Linked DNA regions of Homo sapiens: all the other regions are linked to region 3. The links come from fine-mapping of genetic effects on gene expression. A gene starts in region 3. Each other region holds a variant in brackets. All regions are shown on one strand. Distances are from middle to middle.

Region 1 (7,815 bases), 91 kb after region 3:
GTAGGTATTATCCCCATTTTTCACAGAGTAAAACTCAGACAAAAAGAAATGAAGTAACATGCTCAAGGTCAGGCAGTGAGGCAACGGCTGCATTTGAACCCAGTACTATCCAAAGCCCACGCTCGTAACTGTACACTACTACAAAGTTCTTGAGTCTTTACAAAGACAGACTCAAGTCTGCCTTCTTGGCATTTCCACCCAATAATCCTATTTCTGTCCTTTCAAGGCATATAGAATAAGTGCCCTACTTTGCCAGGGGACAGCTTTGCACATATTTGAGGAGAGATGTCATTGGTTCCCCACAATTTTGTGTTGCCAAGCTAAACACACTCAGTTCCTTCAGCAAGTTTTTTACAAGTTATTTTCATTGAGCAAGGCCTAAGAGGTGAAAGAATATGTGGGAGCTGAATGTCCATAACATAGTTCTAAGAAAAAAATGAAAATACAATCTTGTTTACTTTTGGAACCAGGCTCTAGCAAGTTTCCTAGAACAAAATCCTAGAGGGCAGTGAGTGAGCGGGGTCAGCTTTACCTGTTTCATACAGAGCCCAGCCCAGGCACATAAACACGGGTGTTTCATAAAAAAATCTTTGATGAGTTTGAGGCCAATCTAAAAACCTCCAATCACATTAGGGAGACCAGAACTTGGCAAGAACATTAAATCACTATCCTTGAACATTGTGTCTTTCTAAAATTACCTTTTTATTAGACGCTCTTTGTGCTAGGGTGATGTCAATTGGACAGATTCTCCCTTTCTTCACAATGGGCTCTTGTCCGGGAAGGGTCACTTGATAGGCAGGCTGTAATTTTTCCAAACACCTGAAACAGAAGTTATGAGTTGCAAACTGATAAAGCCAACAGAAACCATTTCCTCATACCCCACTACCAGCAGGCAGTTAGGTGTAGGCTGAAATTGCAGGTCCACAACCTTGGCTGCACATTAGAATCATTCAAATCCCTAGGGAGCTACAGCCCAGATCAATGAAATCTGTATCTCTGACTAGGGCTATGTATTTTTTAAAGCTCCCTAAAATGCGGCCAAGGTAGACACCCACTGATTCAAAGATGGGAACATCAGTGACTTAGGCCCCTGGAAACGGTCCACTGACCTGGCCTTTTGAGAATCTGCCCAGTCTGCCCTGTGGAGGCTACTACCTGTCTCAAGAATGTGCCTTAAGTGGCCCATTGCCTGCGAGTGCTGCTTCACATTTCTGACATGTTTTATAGAGAACTTTTACCACGAGGAGTTTCTACCTTTTATCTAACCAAGTTTTCTCTTGCTATCACATATATCAGGATCAACAACTTTTTCTATAAAGGGCTAGACAGTAAATATTTTTGGTTTTGCCAGTCACCTGGTCTCTTACAACTACTCAGTTCTGCCATTATAGCATAAAACCAGCGCACAGACAACACATAAATGGATATGGTTGTGTTCCAACAAAACTTTATTTACAAAAACAGGTGGCAGGCCAGATTTGACCCATGGGCTGTAGTTTGCTGACTCCTGACAATAAACTATTTTCAGTTATGTGGAAAAGAAGGAATATTAAAAATTTTTCCTTTAAAGACTTTAAGACACTTTTCCCCAGCCTTCTTTTGCTTCTGCATCTTATTGAAGTTTTATTTTATTTTTTCTTATTTTTTTAAATGCCCTCACTTTAACAGAGTAAGTTCTTTTTTTGAGACAGGGTCTCACCTTGTCACCCAGGCTGGGGTGCAGTGACATGAAAATGGCTCAATGCAGCCTCCACCTCCTGGGCCCAAGCAATCCTACCGCCTCCGCCTCCCAAAGTGCTGGGACTACAGGCATGCACCACTATGCCTGCCTGAAGTTCTTATTTTTAATTAATGTTCCTTTTTGTTCTTCCTTTCAAGCTCTCCCATGTCATATTGGCTCAAATTGTTCCAAAGACCCCCCAAATCAGAGTTCCTCAAGCCTGTGTTTATGTAGACTGACTTGGTATGAATTACAGAAAGAAAATCAAAGGCTAAGATAGTGACAGTATTAAAGTTCAATGTGATCAACATTAAGGCGAGGGGATAGAAAAGTTGGAGAGGGACTGCCAATGCTCGTTACCTGGTCAGAAGACTGTCCCATGGAAGCTTCATGACTGTATGCTGTTCATTTTTCTCTAAGATGCAGTCACATAGGATGGGATCCAATCTCACAAGACTAAAGGGAAAGAAGAGGCAATGAAGAAATCCTAGACTTGTCCCTTCTGACCTGAAGGCTAATTCAGGATTCATCTCTCGTACGGCCTTTATAGACATTCAGGATATGAATCAATTATGGGCCCACAGTCCAAAAGGCAATGTACCTTATGGGTGGGAGATACACGAATGCTTTCCTAGGAAAAGCAGGAGGTGGAAGGGAAAGTGAGATGGGATAAATTTGAAGATCAGGAGCCTTTGCTACTAACTAAGCATGTGACCACAGCTTTCTAAGCTTAGCATCAAAATTGGCTAGTGAGGAAGAAAGAAAGGAAGTGGGGATCTTTAAAATGAAGGTGTTGGCCAGGTGCAGTGGCTCACGCCTGTAATCCCAGCACTTTGGGAGGCTGAGGCGGGAGGATCACCTGAGGTCAAAAGTTCAAGACCAGCCTGGCCAACATGGTAAAACCCCATCTCTACTAAAAATAGGGCCGGGCGCAGTGGCCCACGCCTGTAATCCCAGCACTTTGGGACGCCGAGATGGGTGGATCACTTGAGGTCAGGAGTTCAAGACTAGCCTGGCCAACATGGTGAAACCCCGTCTCTACTAAAAATACAAAAATTAGCCGGGCATGGTGGCGCATCCCTGTAATTCCAGCTACTTGGGAGGCTGAGGCAGGAGAATCGCTTGAACCTGGGAGGCAGAGGTTGCAGTGAGCACAGATTGTACCATTGCACTCCAGCCTGGGCAACAAGAGCAAAACTCTGTCTCAAAAATAAAAATAAAACATAAAATAAAATGAAGGTATTAGATTAGGCTGGTATGTCTCAACTTTTTTATCATGATGATGTTTTTTTAAAGTGAAAAAAAAATTTTTTTTTGAGATGGGGTTTCACTGTATCACCCAGGTTGCAGTGCAGTGGCATCATCATTGCTCACTGCAGCCTCAACCTCTTGGGCTCAAGCGATCCTCCCACCTCAACCTCCCAAGTGGCTGAGACTACAGGCATGCCCTACCATGCCCGGCTAATTTTTGTATTTTTTGTAGCGACAGGGTTTCATCATGCTGCTCAGGTGGGTCTCAAACCCCTGGCCTCAAGCAATCCTCCCACCTCAACCTACAAAAATGTTGGGATTACAGACATAAGCCACAGTGTCCGGCCATTAAAGTAAAAAACAATTAATGGAACTCTCTTCATCTGGTAGTTTACCATCTGTATCTCCTTTTAAGAAAATAATACCATAATGGGTACAAATATACAGTTAGATAGAAGAAATAAGTTTAGTCTTTGAGAGCAGAGTAAGGTGACTGTAGTTAACAACAATGTATTGTGTATGTCAAAATAGCTAGAAAAGAGGACTTACAGTGTTCCCGACACATAGAAATGGTAAATACTCAAGGTGATGATACCCCAAATACCCTGCCTTGATCGTTATACACTCTGTGCATGTAACAAAATA[C/CCA]CATGCACCCCATAAATATGTACAAATATCTATCAATAAAAATAAATACCTAAAGCTATGATGACTTCAGTAAATTCTTTGTAAGCTTGCATTTTATTCCTCACAATAGCCAATTAAAGATGATTCATGGGTATTTGTGAGAGAATATTTACTTAGTCGGTAGTCAATGTTGATCGTATACATGGATCTGAACACCCCAGACAATAACTGAGTGTCCACAGCCCATGGTTTGGAAACCACTGATCTTAATTACCTCTAAGATGCTATGGTTTTCTATTCTCCCTCCCAGACATCCTCCCCAAATGTGTCTATGTCTGATAAAGACAAAGACCCAATAAGACAGATCTGGTGCTTCTCATGCACTCACTTTTTGTTGTCTGCATCAACCAGGTCATTTTTCTTGGCGTAGTTAATGACGATCGTTCGGACCTCACTGCCCTCCAGAAAGCTCCCCTTCCTAGGTGAGGAGAAGTGACCCAGGGGTTAGTTCATGCTGTGCCATGAGACAAAAATGCAGATGCCCAGACTCACTCCCTGCTGAGCAGGGAACTTTCCTTAGCTTTCGGCCTCTAGTTTCTTCCCTTTTCCTGACTGAAGTGAGCATGACCATGTGAAGAATAATTACACGCAGAAAAGGGTGAGACCTACTCGTTCATTTAGTCCAGAGGAACTTGCCCAGGGAAGAAGGCTGGAAGCTGGATTTTGGAGAAGGGGAGAACAGGGGCAGAGCAGGTTTTGCCAGTCGCAAAAGAGCACTACTCAGGTTGAGAGGAACTGTAGGCCAGAACACCAAGCAGGCAGAGAAGGGCTGCTCTCCAAAAACTCACTTGTGGCCAGACTCCTGGAAGAGCAGGGTCATGCTGGCTGGGACACAGTAGAGGGGTTTTATATCTGGAGGGTGATAGGGCTGTTCCCTGCTACCCTCCTGGATAGTCTGGGAGGTCGGGGAGGGCTCGGGTATGACGAAAGATGTAATCCTAAAACCCAGCAGAAGGAAAGAAAAAACACATTTTATACTAGCATCTCAGCAATCCCCAGTCCGTGGCCCAGGTGCCCTGGGGCCAGCTGGGCTACAGTGACAGGCCCCCTGCACTCACCTCGGGTGTTTCCAGTCCACAGCCACAATGCTCTCCACCCCTTTGCTCAGCTCCTTCACCTGTATAATCTGCTCCTGCTGCATTTGCTGCAGGAACTTAGAGAGCTAAGGGAGAGAGGGCCAGTGGTAGGGGACTTCATTGATTCCACACACATACTGAGCACCCAGGATGTGCCAGAGTGAGCTAGGCAGGGACTGTGCAGGGATATGAGACAGCCCCTGCCTTCATCAACCAGGAACTGGGAGGCCCCCAACCTGAGGGCCAGGGAGCAAGAAGCTGCTAGAGACTAACCAGTGAGGCCGTTCAGAACTCTAATCAGATATAAAGGGGTCAAAGGAGAAAGGAAAGTGGGTGCCACCAACTGCTTCAGCCCAGGGAGAGTTTCTTTCTTCCCCCTTATACTTGGAGTCAAAAAGCTTAATTCTAGACTGAGCCTGGTAGACAAGGCTTCCCCAGCATCCATCTGGCTTATGTCATATGTGCCCCTACACAACTCTCTGCATGGGTCTGCAAAGAAGATCCTTGCTTACCTTTTTGTAGCTTGACTTCTTTATGTCCAGTTGTCGTCCTTCGGGGCTGATGGCAGATGGAAAAGGCAAATTAAACTAATGAGCAGTCATACTGGGACCTGCCTGACACTGAGAGGAGGGCCTTTTTCCTCAGCCTTCCTCCCCCACCTTCAGAGAGAGGCCACTGTGCCAGAACTCTCTGCCCAGGGATGACAGCAGAGAGGGATGCAGACTATGGGACATTCTAAATCAGTGCTGTTCAAGAGAACTTTCCATAGACGTGGAATGTTCTCTGTGTTGTCTAACAGGGCAGCCATTAGCCACATGTGGGTAGTAAGTACTTGAAGTGTGACTAATGTGACCAAGGGAACTGAATTTTAAATTTTATTTACTTTAAATTAATTTAAACTGAAAATAGCGACATGTGGCCAGTGGCTACCACATTGGATACAGCCTTAGATTCCTCCCAGACCAGACAACCTTCTGTGGCCTCCAAAGTTGCAACAGCAAACTCACACTGTGGGCAGCCAGGCCTGGAGTGGGGCCCAGCAAGCCGCATCCTGGGGTCAGGTCTGGCCAACTAATTATCTACTGTCTATGGTCACATTAGTGCTACAATGGCAGCATCGAGCAGTTGCAACAGAGATGGTGTGGCCTGCAAAACTGAAAATATTCATATTTACTATCTGGCCCTTTACAGAAAAACATGCTGACCCCTGCACTACAGCAATTAGTTTTGGAGAGAACATTCCTGATAAAAGCTTACATCTTCTCTCAAAACATGACACGCAATAGCAGTGGATTCTCGAGGAGTCCTTCTAGAATCCACCCCAGAATCCTATCCTACAGAATATTCTGGGGCCCCTTTACCATATATTTGCAACCCAAGAAAGTCAGAACAGATTACCAAGTATCCCTCCACACACTCCAGACACCACATTTGTACAGGATAGCTTAAAGACACCCAAGTATAAATGGGAAGACATTACATTAAGAATCACTTTTTTAAAAAACCACAGCCAGATTCTCAAAAAGAAATAAATTCAGGCCGGACACAGTGGCTCACGCCTGTAATCCCAGCACTACGGGAGGCCGAGGCAGGCGGATCACTTGAGGTTAGGAGTTCAAAACCAGCCTGGGCAACATGGTGATACCCCATCTTTACTAAAAATACAAAAATTAGCTGCACATGGTGGCATGTGCCTGTAATCCCAGCTACTCGGGAAGGCTGAGGCAGGAGAATCTCTTGAACCTGGGAGGCAGGGGTTGCAGTGAGCCGAGATCACGCCACTGTACTCCAGCCTGGGTGACAGAGTGAAACTGTGTCTCAAAACAAAAAATAAATAAATAAATAAATTCAATCTCAGGGTAAAAATCAATAAGCAAACCTCCTGACATGATAGTATTTACTGAATGCTTATTATGGTTCAGGCTATGTAATCTTTACAGCAATCCCATGATTATTAGAAATTAGGACTCAGAGAAGCCCAGTAACAAGCTAAAATGCACATTGCTTGAACACCCTGGAGACCTAGCAGTTGAGTACAGACAGCTCTGTCTTCAAAATCCAGGTTCTATCCACACGCAATAATACCACTCCTGATGGCTTGTGTTTTGGATGGGGTGGGCCGGGACGGGGGGTGTTCACACCAATTCTTCCTCCTAATAAAACCTAATGTGGCCCCCCACATACTTTTCAGAAGTGTGAGGAGGTTGAATGTTCCAGAAGAAGATTCCTGACAAAGAGGCTGCCCTGGGACACTTCCTGCAGAGGACACGCTGCCCGATTTGTGAGGTTGCCCAGAACCCCCACGGCAGAGGCAGTGTTCACAGAATCTCAGGAATTTTAACTTTCCGGTCCTCAATATCCTTTCATTGGCTAAAATTTAAGATTTTGTTTTAACAGCCCAGCAAGCTAAGAATTAACTTTTTAGAACCCAGGAACTAATGTATTTGTCAGATAAGCCTTCCCTCCACTCTTTCCACAGCATGTCCCTCAACCAGTCCCTGCATTGGCCCCATCCTGTCCTACTACCAAGGAGCACACGTGAGACCCCGGCCCCGGCCTCCAGCCCACATCAGTGCTTTCCATACCAGCAGGAGAACATGTGGCTGCCAAGGAAAGTGCTGGTGAGTAAAGGGAGGTCAGCCTTTTTGACTCGGCACTTCAAGGCATGTAAGAAGCATTGCTGTAACAGCTCATCCATTTGTTCTGCAGGGAAAAGACAAGAGCCACATCCTTCCTGAGGGATACAGAACACCTGGTACAAGAAAACGACCCCCAGCTTCATCCCTACCTCACCCACTTGGCTCTGAAAGGAACCCATTCCCAGGTACCAAAGCTCCCAGCCTCTCTTGAGCACTGAGCCTTTAAAGAGGGTTGACCCCAGAGAAGGAGTCAAGCCACAAAGTCCCACCAAGCTAGGAGTGTTCACCCAGAGAAGTTGAGCCAGAAGAAACCTTGGAGGGCTTTGTAGCTGAAGACAGGCAAATGCCAGGGCAGATTAGCTCCCAGGAAGACGTGACTTATGTGGAAAGGATTCAAAAACAAGATGTGAAAGGGCTGCTGCGCCACCCTCACAGAAAATAAGGA
Region 2 (7,815 bases), 70 kb after region 3:
GGACCTGTGGAAATCAACCCCTTCACTGCTGTGGTGGGTCTGTGGAGTCCATTTCAGAACACAGGCCTTCGAAGACCTGGGAGGGGGCCCTGCAGTAAGGCCCCATAGGGATTCCTCTTTCTCATTTGGTTGAGACCATCACAAAGGGACCAATGACTTTTTTTTTTTTTTTTTTTTTTTTGAGATGGAGTCTCGCTCTGTCATCCAGGCTGGAGTGCAGTGGCGCAATCTTGGCTCAATGCAACCTCTGCCTCCCAGGTTCAAGCGATTCTTCCGCCTTAGCCTCCCGAGTAGTTGGGATTACAGGCGCACGGATAATTTTTTTGTTTTTGTTTTTGTTTTTTTTTTTAGAAGAGACAGGGTTTCATTATGTTGCCCAGGCTGGTCTTGAACTCCTAACCTCACCTTTGAATGCGGTTTGGACATTGAGCAGGGTATTTCAAATCCAGCCCAGATAGATGGGTGTCTGCCCCTTGCCTGCAGACGTTCCCATCTAGGGCAAGCACAACAGAAGCACCGGGTGTTTGGGGTGTGGAAGGCAGCTGCAGATGGACATTCTCCTGTAGGAGGGGCCTGAGGCTTTCCTCCCTGACTTAAGCCTGGAGATGGCTTCCTTCCAAGGGGTGAAAGAATTGCTGCTGACAGATTTGCTAAGAGCTGAGAAAGAGGAAATGTGGCAAAGGCTCATGGTGAATGGCTTCCGGGGTATTTTTTGTTTTGTTTTCTTGAGTTGTGTGTGTTAAGAATGCGTAGACCGGCTTGGGCTTGGCTAAGATAGAGTCTTGCTGACAATAGAGAAAAGTGGTGAGCAGTGAAAAAGTAAAGTCGTGGCGGTTAGAAATGTTCTTTGTGCTCCTTTAGATTGGTTATTCCTGCTGCCATTCAGCCATGCTAGCTAGCCTCCAAGAGGCCCCCATCTCCACACCCAATTCTCTGAAATAGAAGAGGAAGCAATGATGAGAAAAAAACACCACCCTATCTTATGTGTAAAATCTTAGTCCTGCGAAGGGGCCCTTAGAGCTTCTCCAGTATCACTTCATGATTTCACAGATAAGGAAACTGAGGCCCTGAGAGGGGAAGTAGCTCCCCAGACGTCACAGGTCATTTGATGGTCTTGCATTTGTTCTCATCAGCTAGCTGCCAAGAGCTGAGCCACACGGCTAACGCCAAAGTCCAAAGCCTGGTGTGTGTTCTTGGTATCAGACCCTCAGGGTGCAGCTGAGTGTGAGGTGCTCCTGGACCTAGGGGTCTGGGGTGGGCTCTGGCCTGAGACTCCCCAGGCTGTCTTGCCCTCCCCTGCCACCCAATCAACAGGTATTTATCTGACACCTACTTAAAGTTTGGCCCAGGTTTCAGCCAAGCGGGGTGCCAAAAAGCTTAGGCACCAAACTAATGTCTGCCTCCATCCAGAGAGCATCTCACTGGGGAGATGGGATTAACATGTGAAACAATCATTAAACAATAAAAGGCAGCATATAATTAGATGCCAGCTGTAGCCACACAGGCTCTGAAATCACCTCTATAGGCTCTTGCAGTATGGATTTAACATTAGCCAGCAGCTGCAGAGATCTGTGACGATGGTAATTTGTACTTTTGCTGCAATGGGAATCTGAGGCTTTGAGGCCATGGGGCTGGTGTTTGGGAGCGAGTCACAGAACCAGGGGGTGAGCCTAGCTGTCTACCTCCATCCCTACCCCAGCCAGCTTTGTTGCCTCCTCATTGCAGAATGGAGTAAAGTGAGCAAAATCCAAGGAAGTGCCCAAGCCTTTGTCTTCTTGTGAAAAGTGTCCATGAAATGAGAGTGAAGTTACAAAGGCCCATTAACTGGTGGTGTGAGGAAATACACAGGAAACATAGGAAGTATGATTCAGGAGAAAGAGAGACCAGGACAAAACTGTGATTACCTTTCTCCATGTGGGAATCAAAATGCCAGGGATCTGGTACATTAAGAGAGCAGAGGATGGAGAGATGGCTATAGACTGGAGAAATTGCATTGGGAAACTACATAGAGAAGGTGGAACTAGGGCTAATAGTGTTCTAGGCAGGAGACTCTGCACAAACAACAGCATAGAGCAAACTACTGCACATGGCCAGGTTCCATAAATAAAGTTTGTTTTGTTTTTGAGACAGGGTCTTGCTCTGTCACCTAGGCTGGAGTGCAGTGGCACAATCACGGCTCACTGCAGCCTTGAACTCCTGGGGGCTCAGGTCATTCTCCCACCTCAGCCTCCTGAGTAGCTGGCACTACAGGTGCACTTCACTGTGCCCAGCTAATTTTTGTATTTTTTTTTTTTTGTAGAGACAGGGTCTCACTATGTTGCCCAGACTGGTCTCGAACTCCTGGGCTCAAGCGATCATCCTGCCTTGGCCTCTCAAAGTGCTGGGATTGTAGGTGTGAGCCACCATGCCAGGCCCATAAATAGTTTTACTGGAACCCAGTCACACTCATCCAGTAGCTGCTTTTGTGCCACAATAGTAGAGTTGAATAGTGGCAACAGACTGCGTGGCCTGCAAAACCTAACATTTACTGTCTGACCCTTTACAGAAAAAGTTTGCCAACCACTGGTGCAGAGAAAGGAATTAACAAACTCTATGGGCATGTGGCCAATCAGAAGAAGGACTCAAGGAAAATGAAAACTGAAATTGGCTCAGAGGGGTAGAACTTTGCTTTCCTGGGATGATAGTCACCATACATGCCTTTGAATGGGTTTGGTGATTTTCAGAACACTTTTGTACCCATTATCTCATTTGATTTTTACCTTCACATCAATCCTGTGAGACAATAAGGGATTTTTATCCCAAATGTATAGATGAAGAAACTGAGGCTTAGAGATTATCTGACTTTCTCAAGATCATGTAGTTAGTCATGGGAGTCAGAAGCCCAACACACACTTGTGTTCATCCTGCAGGTACTTAACCCCTACTATGTGTCAAGCTGGCACTGGGATCTGGGACACCATAGAGGACAAGACAGGCGTGGGTGCTTCTCTCACAGAACTCAGTCTAAATGGAAATCCAAGGCTCACTGCACTGTAATTCCTAGAAGAAATTAAGACCTTTTTTGTCCACTGTAGGCAATAGGGGATCATTGAAGGTTCTTGAGCAAGTATTTCCTATTTGCCTCATGCTCAGAGGCACCAGGCACAGAGAACAAATTGAAGTATGATGTAAGTCATTAAAGAGCTTTAGTCTAGTTGGGAAGAAGACCTGAGATGGATGAGTCTACTTGGAGGTTAATGTAAGCAGCCAGGCGCGGTGGGTCACACCTGTAATCCTGGCACTTCGTGAGGCTGAAGTGAGAGTATTGCTTGAGGCCAGGAGTTTGAGACCAGCCTGGGCAACATAGCAAGGCACCTCATTTCTACAAAAAAATAAAAAAAATTAGCCAGGAGTGTGGCACATGCTTGTAGTCCCAGCTACATGGGAGGCTGAGGCAGGAGGATTGCTTGAGCCTAGGAGGTCGAGGCTGCAGTGAGTTGTGATTGCACCAGTGCACTCTCGACTG[G/C]GTGACAGAGGGAGACATCTCAAAAAAAAAAAGTGTGTGTGTGTGTGTGTGTGTGTGTGTGTAAGTAGATGCTTACTTAAGTGCCAGATAGTATAGTGTTGCCTTTAGATGTAGGTTAGCTTTAACCTTCCTGTGGCTCACTTTCCTTGACTGTAAAATGAGCATCATAATAGTATTTTTTGTGACACATTTGCTGTGATGATGAAATGAGCTAATACATGCTAAGTGAGTAGAATAGTGCACGGTACATATTAGCTGTAGTGAATCATCGTCATCATTCAGGGCTGGAGTGATCAGGAAGAGCTTGACAAATAAAGTGACTTCTGATGGGCAAACAGGTGTGAGATGATTCAAATCGTGGGCCAGAAGGAGGAAAGACTGACAAATTTAAAAAGAGTGAGAGTGAATTTTTTAGCAAAAATTAGGTTTGTGATTTTGGTCAAGAAAAAGTAGGCACGGATGTATATAATAGCTGCAGTACTGCCGGTGGGACACACGTCCTCCTCAGCCCACCCTCATCCTGGGGACCCCCTCTCATTGCCACAGCATTCCTGGGTGCCCTGGGCCCACCTGGGAATACCAGAAGCCACGTGACTCACTCAGAGCCTCTCCTTAGGGCATTAGGTCACTCTCCAGTCACCAAAATTAAGATTACATATGTCATTGATTAGAGTGCAGAAGTAGGGTTTTGTTGCTGTTGCTTTAGTGATAAAATAAAGAAAAACAGCTTAGGGCAAATCTGCCCTGAGTTAGGCCCCAGACGAAAGGGGTATGGTCCTCCTTATTTTGTTAAGAATATTTAAATGGAAGCATTAGAGAATCACTCAGGGTCGGGGTGTCGCTGTGAACCCCTAGCACCCAGCCTCTTTACATGGCTGTTCCCCAATCACCTCCAGAGCTAAAAGAAGACATTGCCCTTTTCCACCGCATAGGACATGTGAGCACAAACCTGTTTTTCACCAGTGCCCTGGACATGCCAAGTGCATTGGGAACAGCTCAGCCATCTGCCACCAATGCCAGGGGCTTAATCGGAATAGATGAATTCCATGCCAGATGCACTGAGATGTGTGAGCCCCCAGGAGAGACACCTCACATGCCAATGTCTATATTTGTTAAATCATAACAGAGTTCCCTATTCTGTCTCTATCTTGGGCCACCCCAAGAGGCAAAACTGTCTGCTTGGTTTCTCGCTTTGTACCCGTGGACAGATCCTTAAGAATCTGGCAGGTGAATAGGAATCAGAGTCTTTGTCTTATCCTCTGAAGATTGCTATAGTATCGATCTCGCTCTCATGGCAGATAGTGCCTGTTAGGTAAACCTTTGGGGTGTTTGTGTGTTTCTTGGCACCAAGTGTTAATTCAGCAGCTGGATGAAGACCCTTGAGGTCTGGAATTGTTGTGAGGGGTCTGTCTATTTCAGTTCTTTTCGAATGTTGCTGCGAATTAAAATCAACTAGGAGATTTTTAAAATTCCCATGCCCAGACTGCACCCCAGACCAATTAAATCAGAATCTCCAGGGATGAAGCCCAGGCAGCTAAGTTTCTAAAGATCCCCCAGATGATTGCACTGTGCAGACAAGTTTAAGAACCACTGGTCTGGATTATACGCCATCTCTTGGGTGGAAAAAGGATCCGTGAGCCCTCGTGGCTGTGGCTGGCTGGCCTAATTCAGGAGGTGATTCATTTGGTCCATGGGTCACATCTTGTCTGCCAGATATTTTTGTGGGCAGCAGCCATCCCAGACCTGGGTGCTGGCATTCCATGGCTGTGACATTCGTAGTGTTGGCTACACACGGGGCTCCTGGCACTCCCAGACAGGGCTTCCCATCACCAGCCAGAGGGCCAGGCCTCAGAATGGTGAGGTCAGGGCTGCTGTCTTTTGAGTCAGCCCTGGAAGGCAGAGGTGCCTGTGGCCACTTGCGTCACTTCCCCGCGTTTGTGGTGGGAAGGGGAGAGATAGATGGGTCTATCTGCTGAAGAAAGGGGAACAGGAAGAAGAAACCCTAGGCTAAGGCAGCTTTGCTTCTCACTGTATTCAAAATCAAGCCTTTGAAAGCCACAGCACAGCTGCCTTTTCTTACGGGGAAATGGCTCTAGCTTGATTGGAAACTATGAGAGGAGATCTTTCCGAAGCTTCTAGAATTTTCTTTCCATTACTTATTTTTTATAGACAAGTATGAGAAAGCTATTACCTCCTGAGGAGCAATAGCCTACATGCGTCAGAGACAGAGTGAGTGTATAATAGTAACCAGACAACGGGGTCTTTCTAATTAGAAGCTCCCAGCGGGAAGGTATAGGGGTAGGGCCAGGGTCAGGCACATCTGGTCCCATAGACATGTGCTCAGCTGGCAAGGACTGAGGATGGGGAGCTCTGGGAGCTACCCAAGGGAAGGGATGAGGAAAATGAGAGGCTTCACTGTGAGAGTCCCCGGGTTAATGGACTGACAGTGAATGAAGAGAGTCTGTGAGGCTCACACTACTTGCTACTCACCTCCGGCAAGTGGGAGATGGCCAGAGCTGCTTGCCCTTGGGTGGTCTGCAACAGAATCAAGGTTCAGTTCCAGAGACCTGGGAAGGCACACAGGAGAAGGCTGGGCCCTGCATCCTGGTGGCTGCATCTCACTTGAGTTAGAAGTCCTTCCTTCCCACCTTCACAGGTGACATGGTGCCTCTGGGGCCTGACCCGCTGCTTAGACTCATCTTAGATGAACATTTCACAGATCAGGTAACTTACAGGCTTTGGTTTAACAGCTGCTCATCCCAGCCCCGCAGCACAGAGTTTCAGTGATCATTATGGGTGTGGCAGGCCGGCCCCTTCAGCAAAAGATGCCGTCCCATGGTGGCTACATGGTGAATTGAGAAGAGCATGGGCCTTAGATGGATTTGATTCCAGTTCCTACTTAGCTTCTTACTAGCAGGGGACCACAGGCATGTTTCTTAAACTCAGCCTCAGTTTTGTTATCTGTGAAATAAGAATGACATACATAGTATGTAAGAGAAGGTATGTGAAAGTACCCAGCACAGGCTGTTATTAATAGGTCAGGACCCCTTGGGGAGAGTACAGCGGGAGCAGACAGGCCAGGGAACGATGCCATGATGGAAAGAGGATGTCAGAAGCTGGGTGCGGTGGCTCACACCTGTAATGCCAGCACTTTGGGAGGCCAAGGCGGATGGATCATTTGAGGTCAGGAGTTCGACATCAGCCTGGCCAATATGGTGAAATCCCGTCTCTACTAAAAAATACAAAAATTAGCTGGGTGTGGTGGTGCGCACCTGTAATCCCAGCTACTTGGGAGGCTGAGGCAGGAGAATTGCTTGAACCTGGGAGGCAGAGATTGCAGTCAGCCAAGATCGTGCCACTGCATTCCAGCCTGGGTGACAGAGGGAGACGAAAGAAAAGAAAGAAAGAAAGAGAGAGAGACAGAGAGAGAGGGGGGAGAGAGAGAGAGAGAAAGAAAAGGAAGGAAGGAAGGAAAGAAAGAAAGGAGGATGTCAGCTGTGCTGAGGGGTTGGAGGTGGGAGGCTGGAGCCACGCCAGCTCCTCTTGGCAGCCAGAGCCTGACATTGCATCGGTTCTGTGGGATTGGAAAGTGGAAGGAAGTGATGGCAGGTTGTTCAGGGTGGCGTGTCTCCCACATGGCTTGCTGAAGGGAGGAAGGTAGGGCAAAGCTCTGTCACGGAGGGGGGGCCCTGTTGTGTTCCGCGGGGTGGTGATGTGACGTCGCGGCAGCTGTGAAATTCCCCAGCCAAACCCAGACACCCACAGGACAGTGTCAGATGGTGTCAGAGTCATCCCTCACTGGGCCTCAGTTTCCTCATTTACCAAAGGAGAATCCTGATCCACCCCAAGTCTGCTACACTTGAACGTCAGGCAAATTCTGGGTGGGTTCTGACCAACCAGTTCCCACACTCCCAGCCACTCAGGGACAGTGTGAAGATAAAACCGGGAGGTGGGTAACAGTGAACTTGAGAGAGAGCCAGAGAACTGACTGAGGGACAGTGGCTTCGACCCCAGAATTCACCCCTGTATTGTCTCTACAAGGTGAGGGCCATTGACCTCAATCTCCTCAATTTCATTGTTCACTTATCCTTCCCAGGGGGTGGGAGGAGGAGGGCATCTGGGAACATATGAGAAGAATGAACACATGGTCTCACAGGAGGAACACAATGGGACAGACCTGGAATTTCTGTTTCATTCTGTACATACTGACTGTAGGGTGTGAGGCAGGTTGCTAAACTTCTCTTAGTCTCAATAGTCTCACCTGTAAGATGGGGTAATAAACTATCTTACAGACTTCTGGTTTGTGAGAA
Region 3 (7,815 bases):
GAGACTAGAGTTTCTTTAGCACTTCTTCCCTGGGGAAGAAGGAATACTCTGCTGTTCATGTGGGGTGTGTGTGTGTGTGTGTGTGTGTGTGTGTGTGCATGGGAGCAAGAAAGAAGTCTATGTGTGTGTCGTGGGTTGGTGGGGAAATGCTATTTCAAGGAAGAAGGGGACTGGGCTGGGAAAACTGGCATCAGAGGAGACATGCCCCAGCCAGGGAGCCTCACATTGAGGTTAAGAAGGGCAACTGCCCGCCCCAACTCTAATTTCTTGGCTCAAGGAGATGAACTTTAAGATAAACTTTATGATAAATTTTTTGATTGGTTACATGGAGTTATATGATTAATATCTCCATTTTCATCTCTTTTCCCACCCCAGAAGCCAAATATAGGGCTCTGGCCCTGCACAATCTCCTCCCACATTCATGCTAAGAGCAGCCACTGCCACTCCACCAAATCAGAGCTGCAGGAGGAAAACAAAAACTAGAGCATTTTTCTGTACAGCCCAGACAACTGGGGAAGAGTTTTATGCCTGATGGTTTCAGATAGCCCTCAGTTTCCCGTGGCCAGAGATGACGCTCCTCCTCATGAGTCTCTCTATCCAGGAAATCTGGGCTGGGCTGCCCAAACCATGCTTTGAGGCTGCAGGGAAGGACAGAGATGGAGACTGTTAGCAATTATTTCACAAATGGCTTTTCAAAGCCGATCTTCCAGGGATGCACTTGTTGTCAGATCCCTGCTGCTTCTTGCCCCACCAGGCTGTCACTCAGAGCTCAAGCTGTTTCCATGCCCAGGACCTCACCCACCCACTGCACTCCAGGAAGGGGATGAGTCTCAAGTGTGTGGAGATGGGTAACAGAGTGTGGACACAGCAAATATTTATATGGAATACAGATTTCTGCAACAACCCCAAGAGAACTGCTTGCAGAAAAAGTGGGAGATTAAAATAAGAGACCACAAGGGCAAATTGTATTTTCCCTTTTACACCTTCAGCAGAAAGTATTCAGGAATAGCCCTCATTGGGCTTTTATCTGTCAGGTCCACTGAAGTACACTTGTCCTGGGGAGAAGGAACAGAGAAGCCCATTCTCAGAATCACCACCTCAGACCTAGAGCAATGGTTTTCCAAGTTGGGTCCCTGGATCAATAGCATCAACACCTGGGAACTTGCTCAAAATGAGCCATCTCAAACCCCAGCCCCAGACCTATAGATTCTGAAACTTTGGGGATGAAGCCCAATAATCTTAACAAGCCCTCCAGATGACTGTGATGCATACCAAGGTTTGAAAACCACTGATGTAGCAAAAGCAAGGTTAGGAGAGGGAAGAGGAAAGGTAGAGGAGGGGTGGGGCAGAGGCGGTGGCCTGTGGCTTACACCCCTCATCGGAGCTCCTCTGTTTGGTAGCACTGTGGGGTTGACTGTCCCATGGGTCATTCCTCAGAAACCACCTCATAGGGTGAGCTCCCGCCTCTGGTGAGCCCCCAGAGCCCCAGGAACCTCTCTTCTGCTACAGATTTGGGAGGCAGAGGACTATGATTACCGTGAGGGAGAAGCCATGGAGCAAAGCTGGCTGGGAATTCCCTGGCCACTGGACTCTGGAAATCTTAGGAATTACCTAAAAATTACCTCCAAGGGAAAAACAAAAAGCAAAAGTGAAGATTCCCCTACGAAGCACTAGGGGGAGACCCATCTCTGGCCTGGGAAGAGAAGGGAGAGACCAGGTCCAGAAGAATTTAGACTATTCTTCTAAAAAATGACCACCGCTAGACGGACCAAACCGAACCTGTGTTTTAAGAGGAAAGCTGTGATCACTGAGTCATAATGACGGAGCTGGAGAGTGCCACGTTAACAACCACCTGTCTCCCCACCTCCAGCCCAATGTACAGTTAACAATACTGGGGCTAGAGAGGGCCAGGGCCCAGGCCCAGGTTCAGAGATCCAGGAGTCCTCCTTATCCATAAGATGGGCCTGTTTCCATGGGCAAAGGTGCCTGTCAGGAACAACTACATAATTTGTGGGAACCAGTGCAAAAAGAAAACGCCTGGCCCTTTGTTCAAAAAGTAAGACTTTCAAGATGGTGACCGCAGAGCGTTAAACCAGACAAGGGTCCATGAAGGCTTGAAGCAAGCCTTCACGGGGGAAAGTGCCGGGAGAAAGGAGATCTCTCTTTGGGTCCCATGAGTGAACCATCCATACCAGGTTCCACTTAGGGCATTTAGGGGAACTGGTATCTCCACAGTAATTACTAGAGCAGCTCTGGGGAACGGAGGGTTGGCTAAGGAAGAAAAGCTCCCCCAACCCTTGGGGCGAGGGAGCGTTCTCTCAATGGAGCCCCCCCAACTCCCCTCCACCCCCCACCAGTCTTCCAGGAAAGAGGAATACCCTACCCGGCAGGGCTGCGAAGGAAGGGGAAATCCAACCAGAGCGAAAGTCGCACGCGGACAGCTCTGCCAGCCCTTGGAGGCATCCGGCGGTCACCCACGGGACAAAGCGCGGCTGCGGGAGCGCGCGCGGGGCATTCCGGACCCGCGTCGAGCTCCGCTCTAGAGGGGGCGGCGGGCGGCGACAAGCCGGAGAGAGGAAGGGCCAAGGAGCACGGCCCTCCTGTCGGCACCATCAGCGGGAGAGTGGCGAGCGGACGCCTAGACGGAGGGGCCCTACTCAGACCCCATCGAGCCAGTTCCCAAGCTTTTCCCTCCGACCTGCTCCCTCCCGGGGCGCGTGAGGGTGCGGGTCGGGGGTGAACCTGGTGTTGGGGAAAGTGATTGGCAAGGGAAAGAGGCAGGGCTGAAGGCCTAGGGCCCCCCGCAGAAATGCGCCCTCTGAGCTGTACTGTACAGAGGCGCTCCTCTGCGGAATCCTGCAGCTGCTCCAGGTGAAGACGCCCCCAAATCCACACTCGCGCAGACGTCGCCTGGCACGGACCCTACCCCCTTCGGTCCGTCGGCGGTTCTCTTGGGTCGTCCTTCCTGCCACTCCGACTCTCCCCGCCCCCGCCCCGCCCAGCAGGCTGCGGTTCCTTTAAAGGCGCGCTGGTGTGGGGCGGCCCCTTCTCTCGGGGCTGGCTCGGGAGTAGCGCAGTCGCCAAAGCCGCCGCTGCCAAAGCTGCCGCCACTAGCCGGGCATGGCCATGGCGTCCCCGGCCATCGGGCAGCGCCCGTACCCGCTACTATTGGACCCCGAGCCGCCGCGCTATCTACAGAGCCTGAGCGGCCCCGAGCTACCGCCGCCGCCCCCCGACCGGTCCTCGCGCCTCTGTGTCCCGGCGCCCCTCTCCACTGCGCCCGGGGCGCGCGAGGGGCGCAGCGCCCGGAGGGCTGCCCGGGGGAACCTGGAGCCCCCGCCCCGGGCCTCCCGACCCGCTCGCCCGCTCCGGCCTGGTCTGCAGCAGAGACTGCGGCGGCGGCCTGGAGCGCCCCGACCCCGCGACGTGCGGAGCATCTTCGAGCAGCCGCAGGATCCCAGAGTCCCGGCGGAGCGAGGCGAGGGGCACTGCTTCGCCGAGTTGGTGCTGCCGGGCGGCCCCGGCTGGTGTGACCTGTGCGGACGAGAGGTGCTGCGGCAGGCGCTGCGCTGCACTAGTAAGTGTGAAGGCAGGGGAGGGGCGTGCGGGGAGACCGCAGTCTGGGGGCGAAGGACTGGGAGGGCCCTGGGGCAGGGAGAGAGGGGCCATTACACTCTTTGGCTCCAGGGGAGCCCCGAACATAAGGAGATAACAACCCCTGGGGACAGTCCGCTCCTTAGTTCCCTGCCCGGTATCCTTTAGTGCCTGCCCACTACCTAGGTATGGTTATGCGGTAGTTAACAGATACCTGTCTCCTGACAGGTGCGTGCCTTGGCCCTCCACACACACACACACACACACACACACACACACTCGCACACAGGTTGTGGGGGGTGGGTGGGTGATGGCCTCGGCGGCCTCTGTCATCTCCCTGTGCACCCTCATGGTTTTGTTGTGAGTTCTTGGGAGTGGGTTGTGAGACTGCTGTTGAGATGACCGTTTGACCCTTGCTTATTAGGGTTACTGACAAAACGCTTGTTTGTCCGCCCATGGTACAGGCTCAGACCTCTCCTCCAGGGGGACGTATTGGGACAGGGAGGAGACCTTGTTAGATTTTGGATAAAGGCAGGCTGTGAGGCTGAAGAGAGCCTGAAGTCACCCTGAACCCGTGCCCCCTCCTGCCTTTCACCTCTGGCCCCTCAAACCTTTGGACTCTGCTCCAATGTTTGGCTGTGCCCTGCCTCCTCCCCTTCCTCCTCCTGGGTTCCTGCCCTAGTCGTCATGCTCTAACATTACTCAGCTCCTGACAGGGTCCCTTCCTCTCCACAGCCCTCAGGCCCCTCCAGTCACCTCCTGAGCCAGGCGCTTCTCAAAGCCAGAAAACACTGGGCCCCCAGTGTATAGATTTTCTGAGCCAATCTTCAGTCTCCTTGGGGGTTTATTATTTTTCTCCTCCTACAGTTAGGGGTGTGTATGCCTTTAATAGGTGTCCACCCTCCACCCCCACCCCGGCATTTGCTCTTGCGTGTTTATCAGAGGATATCCACAGCCATGTGTTCATGTGTTTACATGGATATTTCAAATATCTGAAGCCCAAAGCACAGACAATGGCACAGCCTCTAACAAGCATCTCTGGAAATGGATTGTGGTTTGCATCTTTCAGCAAAGGCCCTTCCCCTATGGCAGCAGCCTCACGTCTCCCATCCAACTGCAGCGTTGGACAGCAGCAGTGATTTCCACATCAGGAAAACCCTACCCTTTTTCTGCCTGCAGTCTGCAGCGGAGGCTGTTCAATGTGCTGCCCGCTGCAGCTGGCTGCAGGGAAATAGAACTCAGACACTAAGCCTGGGTCAAGTGGAAGGGAAAGATTGGAAGGGCAAGTGGGTGCTGCTCTTTCCTCCACCAGAACCCCCAGTTCAGGTGCTAATTAAGAAGGAAGGAGTAAAGGTTTGTAGAGGTACATGTTGTGGGTAGAGGGGCTGCTGTCCCTTGGTAAATGCCTTTGACTACAGTAGAATCAAATGCAACTTATCCTTGGATGTGTTGGCAGCTTTTGCACTTTCAAGATTCCCTTACTGCATCCAACAACCCTACACACAGGGAGAGAGGCAGGAGCCTCACTGAAATGGGTTTTATCATAGCTGGAATCCCAGGAAATCTGCTTCGTTGGCATTCTAGTTTGTAGTTAGACTTTGGGGGACTGTATCACTTGTTGAAGATTTTGCACATAGTTTTGTGATTTTCTTTTTTTTTTTTGGTTTGGTGATAATGGTGCGTTTGTGTGTATTTGCGTGTGCCTGTGTGTGATACTCCATGACTAAATGAATTGATCCTTACGTCACATCAGAATTGTCGATCTCCTTTGATTAAGTCATACGTCGTTTCTAGTGGCAGGAAGATCTAGGCCCCCGGGCAGTACCTCTGACTTTGTGTGTGACTTGGTGAGGTCTTTTTACTTTCCTGGGCGCTCATGGTCCCCCACAGAGTTGGTTTAATGCTAACGATGTCTGAACACTGGAGAGAAAGCAAAACTGGAATCGAGGGGCTACAGAAAGGAGTCTCTGTTTGTCATGATTAATATTTAACTAATTGTGAACCTATGGCTGGATGGCAAAAGTTGAGAAATGTTCTGATGTGCAGATGAGGGCTGGCAGGTGGAGACACAGCAGGCCAAACTCGCTGAGCATCTTTCTTTAAGTTGAAGGTCTGATTCCATGGTGAGGTTGCTTTGTTTTATCTTCATTTTGAAAAGCAAGTGTCAGAAATAGGACTTTAAAAAAAATCATACTATGCAGTAGTTAAGAGTACAGACTGGAACCAGAGCCCTGGGTTTGAATCCTGACTACCACTTAGTCCCCACGTGAGTCCTGGACATCTCTGTGTTCTGCTTCTTTGTTTAAAAAAAATAGGATAATGATATTACCTACTTCATCATGTTAATCTGAGAATTAAATGGATTAATATACATAAGGCACTCAGAACAGGGCCTAGCAAAATGCAATACGAATGTTTAATTCGATATGATTGTTATTGTCCCCTCCCATCTAACAGCTGTAACAACTAGTCTGGGCTTGTGACACCTCCTAGGATTACCTTTCGAAGCAGTGAGTACAATTTGCGAACTCTGCCTGGTTGCTGAGCTAAGTGGGGAAGTGACTGCCATAGACATCCCAGAAAATTTGGGTATTAGGTGTCCTCTAGAAATGCCACTCCTACCTGATGTCCTGCTGTGGCTGAGGAGACCCTTCTTTGCCTGGCATAGGGGCCACGAAGCCATTGGCTCCTTGTCTTTGTGTTTCTTGCACCCAGCAGAGTGCCAGGCCCAGAGCAGGGTCTCACTATGTGGTGAGTGATGAAAGTGATGGCTTGTTTGTGCTATTAAATATCCCAGCCCTTGGAAACAAGCAGGAGGGCAGTGGGTATGTGAGTGACATCTGTCTGCCCAGGAGACTGACACTGGGTGGGAACCATGTTGGCAGAAGGGCACTTTAGTAAGGAAAGCATTTTGGAAAACACTCTTCCCACTGTCTGCCTTTTTAGCAAAAGTTCATCTAACCTAAGCTTACCCCACTTCAAGGTCTGTAACCAACCTCTGGTTAATGCTGGATTTGTGAACAGGGAAGTTCAGAGTTAATATTAATTTCTAGGATTAAAGAACTCCTAGTTGTGAGATAGAGAAGGAAATCCAGTGGGGATCTGTGGAAAGGCAGAGAGAGAACGAAAGGTCCTGTGAGCCCATGTGTGTGTTTTGGGGTAGGGGTGATGGTGATGGCGAGAATGCATTTCTAGCATTCTAGGAGGGAATGGTCAACAGCAAATAACCAGAGAAACTCACTGGCTGCCCTTTGGCTTTATTCTCAGGGACTTCCCCTTACAGATGACGTCCCTTAGTGTTCCTTCTGTAGAAGGCGCATGGAGGTGGCCTTTTACCTTTCATCTCATTTTGGTGGCTGCGTAAGCCATCCTGGACCAGGGGATGGTCTGGCACTTGGAGAAACCTAAGCCTGACTCAAACCCTCCTGGAGATGCTTAGACACACCTTGGCCATTGTCAGTGAATGCCACCTGTCTGCTCCTGGAGTCGGAGTCTCTCTCCAGAGGGGGCGTTATTCAGAGCTGTGAAGTGTTAAGTGATTGGAATTACATGGTTGAAAGGGAGGCCAACTAACCTCCCCACTCTGTGATAGATTTTAATGATGTGACTACAAGGCCCTGCCATGCAGCCCTCGGGGAAGGGCACCGGGACTATTCTTATTAAGAATGGCTGATATCTCCCTGGGCCTCTAGTCTGGTCTCTCTAGTCTTGTTGCTACGCTATTGGCTGGGTTCAGCTCCACTTTCTGCACTTTCTGCACAGCTGGAACCGCCTGCGTGACAGCCCCCGATCCTGCAGACCCATCCCCCGCTTGTGGGTTCTTTGTGAAAAAGGCTCCTGGGACATTGGCATTGATTCTTTCTGTAGCAGAGAAAGGTCTTCATTTCAGGCCTCTCAGAAATCATCCTGTGTTGTTCTGGCGGCTTCTGTATTTATTTACCTTGGGCACTTGGAAGGTATTTGCGCACCCAGCAGCACTGAGTGTGTAGCGTGTGTTTTCCTTGATTTAGCCCCGTGTTTGGCTTTAGAGTTTAAGAAAATGAAGCACAGAAATGGAAATTTTGTTGTTAAAGATTGTGAGAATCCCCCACTCCCAAGCCCTCTCCTACCCCTGGCTCTAACTGGGATCTTCTTCTTGGGCAAGGTCCTGTTGGAGGATGTGTGCGTTAGGGGCCAGGGAAAGGACCTGGAATGCTTTCAAAGAGGCCTTCTGAGCTTCCC
Region 4 (7,815 bases), 34 kb after region 3:
AAGGGGACTAGGGGAAGTGACACAGAGAACTCTGAAGATACTCAGAAGTCCCCTGTAGTTCTCCCCAAGTACAGAGCCTATTGTGGCTTAGGGCTCTGAGCCAGAGATGTGGGTATGAGTGAGCAGTGGGGTGGCTTCCAGAGAAGCCTTCTGACGGTCCCTAAAGGCCTCATAGCCCTGGGACAGTGGGGATGCTGGGGCTGAGGCATCTCAAGCACATTGTCCAGCCAGGCCAGCCCAACCTTCAGAGAGGCTGGGCAAATGTTCTCTCCCTGTGTTAAAGAACCAGAAAATTGATGTCCAAAGCAGCTTTTGGTTCTGGGTTTTGTAAAGACACTTGAACTGTGATGTATCTGAACTTTTATTTCTAGGATTTAGAATGGAGACAGAGGAGTGTGTTTATTGCTTCTTGCATTGAACAAGCATTTGTTGAGTATCTACTGTGTACCAAGCATGGGTGAGAGTTGGGGTAATAAATGCTACGTCACAATTCTTGTCCTCAGACAGCTTGCATTCTGGCAGGGGAGGCAGAATACCAACAAATAGCATACACTGTGATGCATTTTGCAATAAAAGTATGAACCAAGTGTTTGGATATATAGTGCAATTGTTTCTGCTGGGAGAAATCAGGGAAGGCTTCCCAGAGGAGGTGATGTTTGATTTAAGCCTTAATGTGTGGGTTGAAGGTTGCGAGTCAGGGAAGTAAGAATATCATCCTTTAATTCATTTAACAAATAAGTTTCGAGTGTTCACCATGTGCCAGGCCCAGGAATGCTGAGGATTTAATGATGAAAATTACAGACATGGTTTCTACACATCCGGTGCTTACAGTAGGGTAAGGGAGTGAGACTTTAAACAAATATATCCTGTGTCTCTGACGGAAAATCTCAAGGTGCTCTGAGAAACTATACTGGGGGACCCAGGTGCTGGATGGGAGACTCACGAGCAGCCCCCCGGTCTCCAGAGTAGCCATCACATGCTTTTTCTGGAACACAATCAACAGTGTTCAAATGCCTAATTCACCATGGGTGTTACCAGCCTCCCAGCTGTTCCCTCACGCCTTTCTCTCTCCCTGGAAAAAGAATTATTAGAAAGCAAGAATGATATATGTTTTTATAAGGGTGATGCTGGATTAGTTCTAAAATGTATATTTTAAAACTCTGCACATCGCTCCACAGACGTTGGAATAGTAACTATTTCTGGTGTAGCCTGAATGTAGCCTCTTGGAAGGGCCTTACCCTTAGCAGGAACTGTCTACCCAGGATGGGACACAGGGAAAGGAGAGGAGGCACATCTGGCCCCCAAAAGTGCTGATGGGCAATGCAGATGTTTCCTGAAGGTTTTCCTCAGAAGATAGAGGGAGGAGGTTACATAGTACACCATATAGCAACATTTCCTAAAAATCTTATTGAAACAACCTTTTCTGGTCTCAATTTGCTTTTCTCTTTGGGAGCTTCCAAGTGTCTCTTCTTTCTGATCTCCTCAGCCCTGCACGCCACCCTGGAGCCTGGCTGTCCCCATTACTTCCTGGGTCTCCTCTTTGTGTCTCTTTCTGTTCCTTCCTTTAGAGCAGCAGGTCTCAAAAGGCGGCAATTTTACTCACCCCCTAGGACATTTGTCTGGAGACATTTTTGGTTGTCACAACTTAGAGGATGCTACTGATTCTAGAAGAGGCCAGGAATGCTGCTAGCCGGCCTGTTTTGCATAGAACAGCCCCCCACAACAAAGAATTATCTGACCTCAAATGTCAGTTGGGCGAAGACTGAGAAACCCTGCCCTAGAGTGGGCTAGCCAGCTCCCAAGTGTGGCAGGCAAAAGGCCCAGGGAAGGCCTGGAGTTGGCTGGATTCGTTGTCTCATCCTCCAAATGTCAGCAGTGAAGAGATGCTTTCATGTCTGAGTTTTTGGAAACAGAGTGACCCCCTTTCCTCTGCTGGAGAGAGGAGTCAACCTTGGAACCCTCTGGCAAGTGAAATCAGGGCTTGTCTAGAGCAGAAACACCACTGAAACATTGCAGAGGAAGGAGCCAAGAACCCCGCGTGGGAGCTGAACCGCCCCCAGTGGGCAAACAGCCTGGCATGGGGTTTGCTCCTGGGCTGGCCAGATCAGGCTGCTGCTGTATTTGCCTTGGACAGGCCTGCCTGCATGCTTCAGCAGAACTGGGGCAGGACCCAGCCCTCTATCAATAAAACCTGGGCCCTGCTCCAGGCCCACTTGCCTCTTCTAAAAAGCCTGTTTGTGCTCATTTCCGCCTTGGCTTGATTTTCTGTTAAATCTCAAGATGGAGCTTTCTTTCACCTTGACATCATCGACCTGGGCTGAGCTAACTTCATGTGCTAGTGCTGTTTTCTTGGGGGATTTAAGGGAGCAGGGGCTCAGATCTGAGCTCAGCTACTTCCGGGTATATATGGCTTAGGGGGGTCTCGTCTCAGTGGCATTTCTCCTCTCTGATATATATTTTTTTTTCCTGAGACAGAGTCTCACTCTGTTGCCTAAGCTGGAGTGCAGTGGCATGATCTCAGCTCACTGCAACCTCCACCTCCTGGGTTCCAGCAATTCTGCCTCACTCAGCCTTCTGAGTAGCTGAGATTACAAGTGTGCTCCACCATGCCTGGCTAATTTTTGTATTTTCAGTAGAGTTGAGGTTTCACCATGTTGGCCAGGCTGGTCTCGAACTCCTGACCTCAAATGATCCACCCGCCTTGGCCTCCCAAAATGCTGGGATTACAGGTGTGAGCCACTGCGCCCGGCCCTCTCTGCTCTTTAAGGAAAGAAAATCATTTATTTTCCTCCATCCAGAGAGAACCATTCTTTATTAACATTTTTATATGTTCTTCCTGAACATTCATACATTTTTCAAAACATGATTGAGATCATCCTGTAGATAAGCATTTGGCCTCAACATTTCAAAAGCAACAATCCCAAGGTTCTGTCTTGTCTCTGCCATGCCACAGGGAGGCAGCTGGGGAGGAAGGAGGGACAGGTGTGGAAGCGGGCAGGAATGAGCTCAGAATCCCCAGTGGCAAACTCAAAAGGTCATCGGAAACAGGCATCAGAAACCGAGGAAGGCCGCTGGGAGCTGTCTGTGCTTTTGTCAACCACAGAAATGAGGGTTTTGGAGTTTCTCCTTAAAGATCTCTGAGGTCTCTGATATCTGACTTTTCCTTGGGCACCCATGCGTGACCAAGCAAATCTCCTTCAAGTCTACCCTAGACCCCTTTTTCAGTTTAAGCCTCATTTGCTAAGGAACATCATCGCTATTGGCTAAAGACCACAATCAGTTACCCAAACAGCTGCAGTTCTTCTATTTAGGATTATACCCCAAAGAATTTATACTTCTGGTGGTCTTAACGGTGCTCTTATCCTGTCACCCCTGGGAGGAAAAAAGCCCTCAGTGGCTCCTGGTGCCCTCACGATGAAGTGAGGCCTCTGATGGCTTGGTTCAGTCCTTTCGCTGCCTATGGAGAAGCTGGCCCCAAGAGAAGAAGTCTTTGTCCTTGCCCACCACTGGATTCTCATTATCACCCACTGCGGCCCAGGGCAACCCCGGCAGCTCTGTCCCTTTGGCCTTGGGTGCCGCTTTTCTTGGTACATGGAATGCACAGATTGCAAGAGAGAAACATAAGCACTATTCCTTCTACTCCAATCCCTTGCAGCCAGTGCTCAAATTTTATGCCAGCAGGCCCAGAGTCCTACCCCTTCCTCCTGACCCTCTAGAGTCCCTGATATGGTTTGGATGTGTGTCCCCTCCAAATCTCATGTTGATGTGTGGCCTCCAATGTTGGAGGTGGGACTGTTGGGAGGTGTTTGGGTCATGGGGGTGGATCCCTCATGAATGACTTGGTGCTGTCCTGCAATAATGAATGAGCTCTCGCTCTATTAGTTCACACAAGAGCTGGTTGTTTAAGACAACCCTAGCATCTCTTTTTTGCTGTCTCTCTCGA[G/A]TGTGACACGCCTGCTCCCCCTTCCCCTTCTACCATGAGTAAAAGCTTCCTGAGGCCTCCCCAGAAGCCAAGCAGATGCTGGTGTAATGCTTGTACAGCCTGAAGAACCCCAAGCCAAATAAACCTTTTCTCTTTATAAATTACCCAGCCTCAGGTATTCCTATATAGCAACACAAAATGGACTAAGACAGTTCCTGGGCAGCAACCTCGGAAACCAGGCTCCCAGGCCCTCAGCTGCAAAGGCCAGCCCCTCCCATGGCCGTTCCCAGACCACACTCAGGCACTTTCCCCACTCAGGACTCAGGCCCTGCTCATGTTCCACCTGTCTACTATTTACTTAACATTTCTCTTTAAATAGACTTATTTTATTAAATTTAAATAAACTTACATTAAAGGAAATTTTAAAATATCCTCGAATCACTGGTTTGATGTACTTAGGAATTTTTTCTCAGCACACATTAAATGAATACTTATAATTTCTTTTAATATGTGTCTAAGGACTGCCTCAAATTTACTCCACAAATATTTATTAAGCCAGGCACTAGCCAGGCACAGTGGCTCACACCTATAATGTCAGCACTTTGTGAGGTCAAGGCAGGAGGATTGCTTAAGCCCAGGAGTTTGAGACCAGCCTGGGCAACATAGCAAGGCCTTGTCTCTACTAAAAATTAAAAACATTGGCCAGGTGTGGTGGTGGTGTGCATCTGTAGTGCTAGCTACTTGGGAGGCTGAGGTAGGAGGACAGCTTGAACTGAGGAGAAGGAGGCTACAGTGAGCTATGATCATGCCACATGCCACTGTACTCCCATCTGGGCAGCAGAGTGAGACCTTGACTAAAAAAAAAAAAAAAATCCACGCACTGTTCTAAAGTCCTTTCAGGTGTCATTTGTGGGAGATGCTGCCCTATCGAGGCCACTCTCTTTGGCCATCTGGTGCCTGGACTACCAGGGCACTGGGTCCAGGGAGTGCCTAAGGGGCAGTGTGAGCAGTGGAGAGAGCTCCTGGGATGCTGAGAAGGAATTGCCAGCTGTTCTTACCAATACCAAGGTGCTCTTCCAAAGGACACTTGGATCTGTATATACTGATACGGAATTGTGCAGCATGAATGCAGGTCCCTCCACGGTACACATAGGACCAGGCCATTTGTATTTTGCATGTATATATACACGTGTGTGTGTATGTGTGTGTGTGTGTGTGTGTGTGTGTAAATGCAGAACGAGGGCCTGGTAGTGCTCAGCTAACTACTGAAAGAGATTTCACCCTGGAAGGGGGTGGACGTTGAAAGGGGTAGAGTGAGGCTCTCACCTTTTGCCCTTTGTTTCTGTGTTGTTTGAATAGCCAAATGCTTTTCATATGTTCCTAATGTCATTTTTTATTTTTATTTTTTATATTGAGTCTTGCTCTGTCACTAGGCTGGAGTACAGTGGTGCAATCTGTGCTCACTGCAACCTCCGCCTCCTGGGTTCAAGAAATTCTCCTGCTTCAGCCTCCTGAGTAGCTGGGATTACAGGCGTGCACCACCATGCCAGGCTAATTTTTGTATTTTAAGTAGACACAGGGTTTCACCATGTTGGCCAGGCTGGTATTGATCTCCTGACCTTGTGATCCGCCTGACTCGGCCACCCAAAGTGCTGGGATTACAGGTGTAAGCCACTGCACCTGGCCCTAATGTCATATTATTAAAAGGCAGTAAATGTTTTCTTAAAACACAGACCCTTGGCCTGGGTGACTGAATAGCTAGGTTCTAATCCAGATTGTGTAGACGAAATACTTGACATATGAGCCAGGACAAGCCTCTTAGTTTCTTTGAGTCTCAGGTTTCTCTTCTGAGAAATGGGACCCTGTGAGGCTCCAGCGAGAAGAGGTGTGTGAAAGCATGAGTGGACAAAAGCATGAGTATTCTAGGTGGCAGTCCTGGGCCATCTCTGGTACCTCTAACAGTCTTGCTAGATGTAGATTTTTTAACTGTGTAACTCCTGTGATGAAAGCCCTCAGTGGCTTCCCATTGCCCTCAGAATGAGTCTAAATCTGGATTAGCACACACAACCCTTATGGTCTGGCTCTGCCAACTCTCCAAAACACCAGAAAGTAGGGTTGTTGTCCTGGATATAAAACCAGGACTCTCTGGCTTTGTGGTTTGGGTGGACATTTTTTGCTATAAGGTTTATGACTATTGTTGAGGCCCCAAGTCACTATTCCACCCTGTGGATGAGTCCCTGTCCCCACTCACCAAAGGAGCAGATGGCTTCCAGGGTTCCAGGATAGATCAGCCGGCCAGCCAGCATTTCAGCCTTGCAGGTCCCTGCTGCCTTTCTGCCTACACCCCCAACCCCAAACACTGTCAAGCCTTAGCAGGGCCCCTGCTGCAATCACCCCTCAGCCCCTGCAGCAGAGTAGTGACTCCGCTGGCTTGGAGTTCTGTGCTTCCTGGCTCCCAGTCCTTTGCTCCCTCCTGCAGACATGCCACTGTCTGCATTAACGCGGTCTCTACCTTTCCAGACCCTTGAGAAAAAAAAAAAAGCTCCTGCGGCCAGTCCTGCCTTGTCCCTCAGCCCAACAGCCACGTGTTGAACCCAGGATGACCACGTGGGGGAGCCAGAGAGCAAGAAGAAATGCGCCTAAAAGGGCAGGTGCTGGGGGTGGGGGGATGTGTCCTTTCCTGAGGCCCCGGGCTCCCTAACACACTTGATAGACCTACCTGCACATCTCTCAGGAAGTGCAGGGTCTTGGGTCCCTTCTGGAAGCTTCAACACATGTTAATTGAACTGTGACTGATAACAACAGTAGCTGACATTTTTTGAGGCATACCTGTGTTCTGTCTACTCATTTCATTTATTATTGAAAGAAGTGTTGAAATCTCCAACTATAATTGTGGATTTGTGTATTTCTCTTTACAGTTAATATGCCTGTATTTTGAAGCTCCATTATTAGGTGCATAAACTTTTAGGAATTTCTTGTGTTTTTTTTTTTTTTTTTTTTAACAGACAGGGTCTCACTCTTTTCACCCAGGCTGGAGTGTAGTGGTGCTCATTGTAACCTTGAACTCCTGGGCTCAAGTGATCCTCCAGCCTCAGCCTCCCAAGTAGCTGGTACTACAGGTGTGTGCCACCATGCCTGAATATTTTTTGAGTTTTTTTATAGAGATGGGGTCTTGCTCTGTTGCCCAGGCTGATCTTGAACCCCTGGCCTCAAGCGATCCTCCTAAAGTGCTAGGATCACAGGCACAAGTCACCACATGGGATACTTTTAGGATTATTATGTCTGCTTAGTTAATTGACCTGTGTATCATTATGAAATGACCTTCTTTATCCCTGTTAACATTCTCTACTATGAAATCTACTTTGTCCAATATTAACATAGTTACTGCAGCTTTCTTTTAATTACCATTAGCATGGCATTCCCTAATCTACCCTTTCATTTTTAGGCTATGAGTCTCTTTATATTTAAAGATCATTTCTTATAGGCAGCAAATAGTTGGATCTTGTTTTTTTTTAAACCAATCTGCTCATCTCTACCCTTTGAGTATTTAGATCATTTGCATTTAATGTGATTATTGATATAGCTAGATTTTTTTTTTTTTTTTTGAGACAGTCTTGCTCTGTCACCCAGGCTGGAGTGCAGTGGCGCGATCTCGGCTCACGATATAGCTAGATTTTAAGTCTATCTTCTTACTACTTTTTTTCTTTTCTTTCTTCTTTTTCTATTTTTTTTTTTTTTTTTTTTTTTTTTTTTTTTTTTTTGGGACAGGATCTCATTCGGTCACCCAGGATGGAGTGCAGTGACACAATCATGGCTCACTGCAGCTTCAACCTCCCCAAGCTCAGGTGATCCTCCACTTCAGCCTCTCGAGGAACTGGGACTACACATGCACC

Direction of the effects. Positions count from the first base shown, and alleles are read on the strand shown. Sizes are in standard deviations (SD) of each study's normalised expression. Not every link is listed here.
In carriers of allele G in region 2, the expression in monocytes after R848 of the gene that starts at base 3,049 in region 3 tends to be higher than with C alone (large effect, 1.4 SD a copy in Quach 2016).
In carriers of allele G in region 4, the expression in thyroid of the gene that starts at base 3,049 in region 3 tends to be higher than with A alone (small effect, 0.20 SD a copy in GTEx).

Evidence for each region.
Region 1: its variant is fine-mapped to the expression of RASSF5 in blood mononuclear cells (TOPMed, PIP 0.94).
Region 2: its variant is fine-mapped to the expression of RASSF5 in monocytes after R848 (Quach 2016, PIP 0.93).
Region 4: its variant is fine-mapped to the expression of RASSF5 in thyroid (GTEx, PIP 0.92).

The regions. Positions count from the first base shown.
Region 1 is chr1:206,595,020-206,602,834 of GRCh38, forward strand. EIF2D (eukaryotic translation initiation factor 2D) reads right to left here. Exons shown (of 15, transcript NM_006893.3): 7 at 7,317-7,434; 8 at 5,244-5,289; 9 at 4,714-4,817; 10 at 4,444-4,593; 11 at 3,984-4,073; 12 at 2,081-2,176; 13 at 699-819. Among named protein-coding and RNA genes, the nearest start is that of EIF2D, 14 kb to the right of the region's middle. RefSeq lists an enhancer at 6,868-7,815. The variant C/CCA (reference allele first, on the strand shown) is at 3,617.
Region 2 is chr1:206,574,697-206,582,511 of GRCh38, forward strand. The region is part of intron 2 of RASSF5 (Ras association domain family member 5); the gene reads left to right. It also overlaps a transcript of EIF2D not described here. Among named protein-coding and RNA genes, the nearest start is that of EIF2D, 34 kb to the right of the region's middle. RefSeq lists an enhancer at 1,162-1,211. The variant G/C (reference allele first, on the strand shown) is at 3,506.
Region 3 is chr1:206,504,483-206,512,297 of GRCh38, forward strand. RASSF5 (Ras association domain family member 5) reads left to right here and starts at 3,049. Exons shown (of 6, transcript NM_182663.4): 1 at 3,049-3,577. The coding sequence starts at 3,121. LOC124904493 (a long non-coding RNA gene) reads right to left here and starts at 2,925. Exons shown (of 2, transcript XR_007066830.1): 1 at 2,384-2,925; 2 at 1-638. RefSeq lists an enhancer at 18-67 and silencers at 2,665-2,714, 2,965-3,324, 3,365-3,454.
Region 4 is chr1:206,538,444-206,546,258 of GRCh38, forward strand. The region is part of intron 2 of RASSF5 (Ras association domain family member 5); the gene reads left to right. Among named protein-coding and RNA genes, the nearest start is that of RASSF5, 35 kb to the left of the region's middle. RefSeq lists enhancers at 5,744-6,288, 6,232-6,471, 6,289-6,831. The variant G/A (reference allele first, on the strand shown) is at 3,944.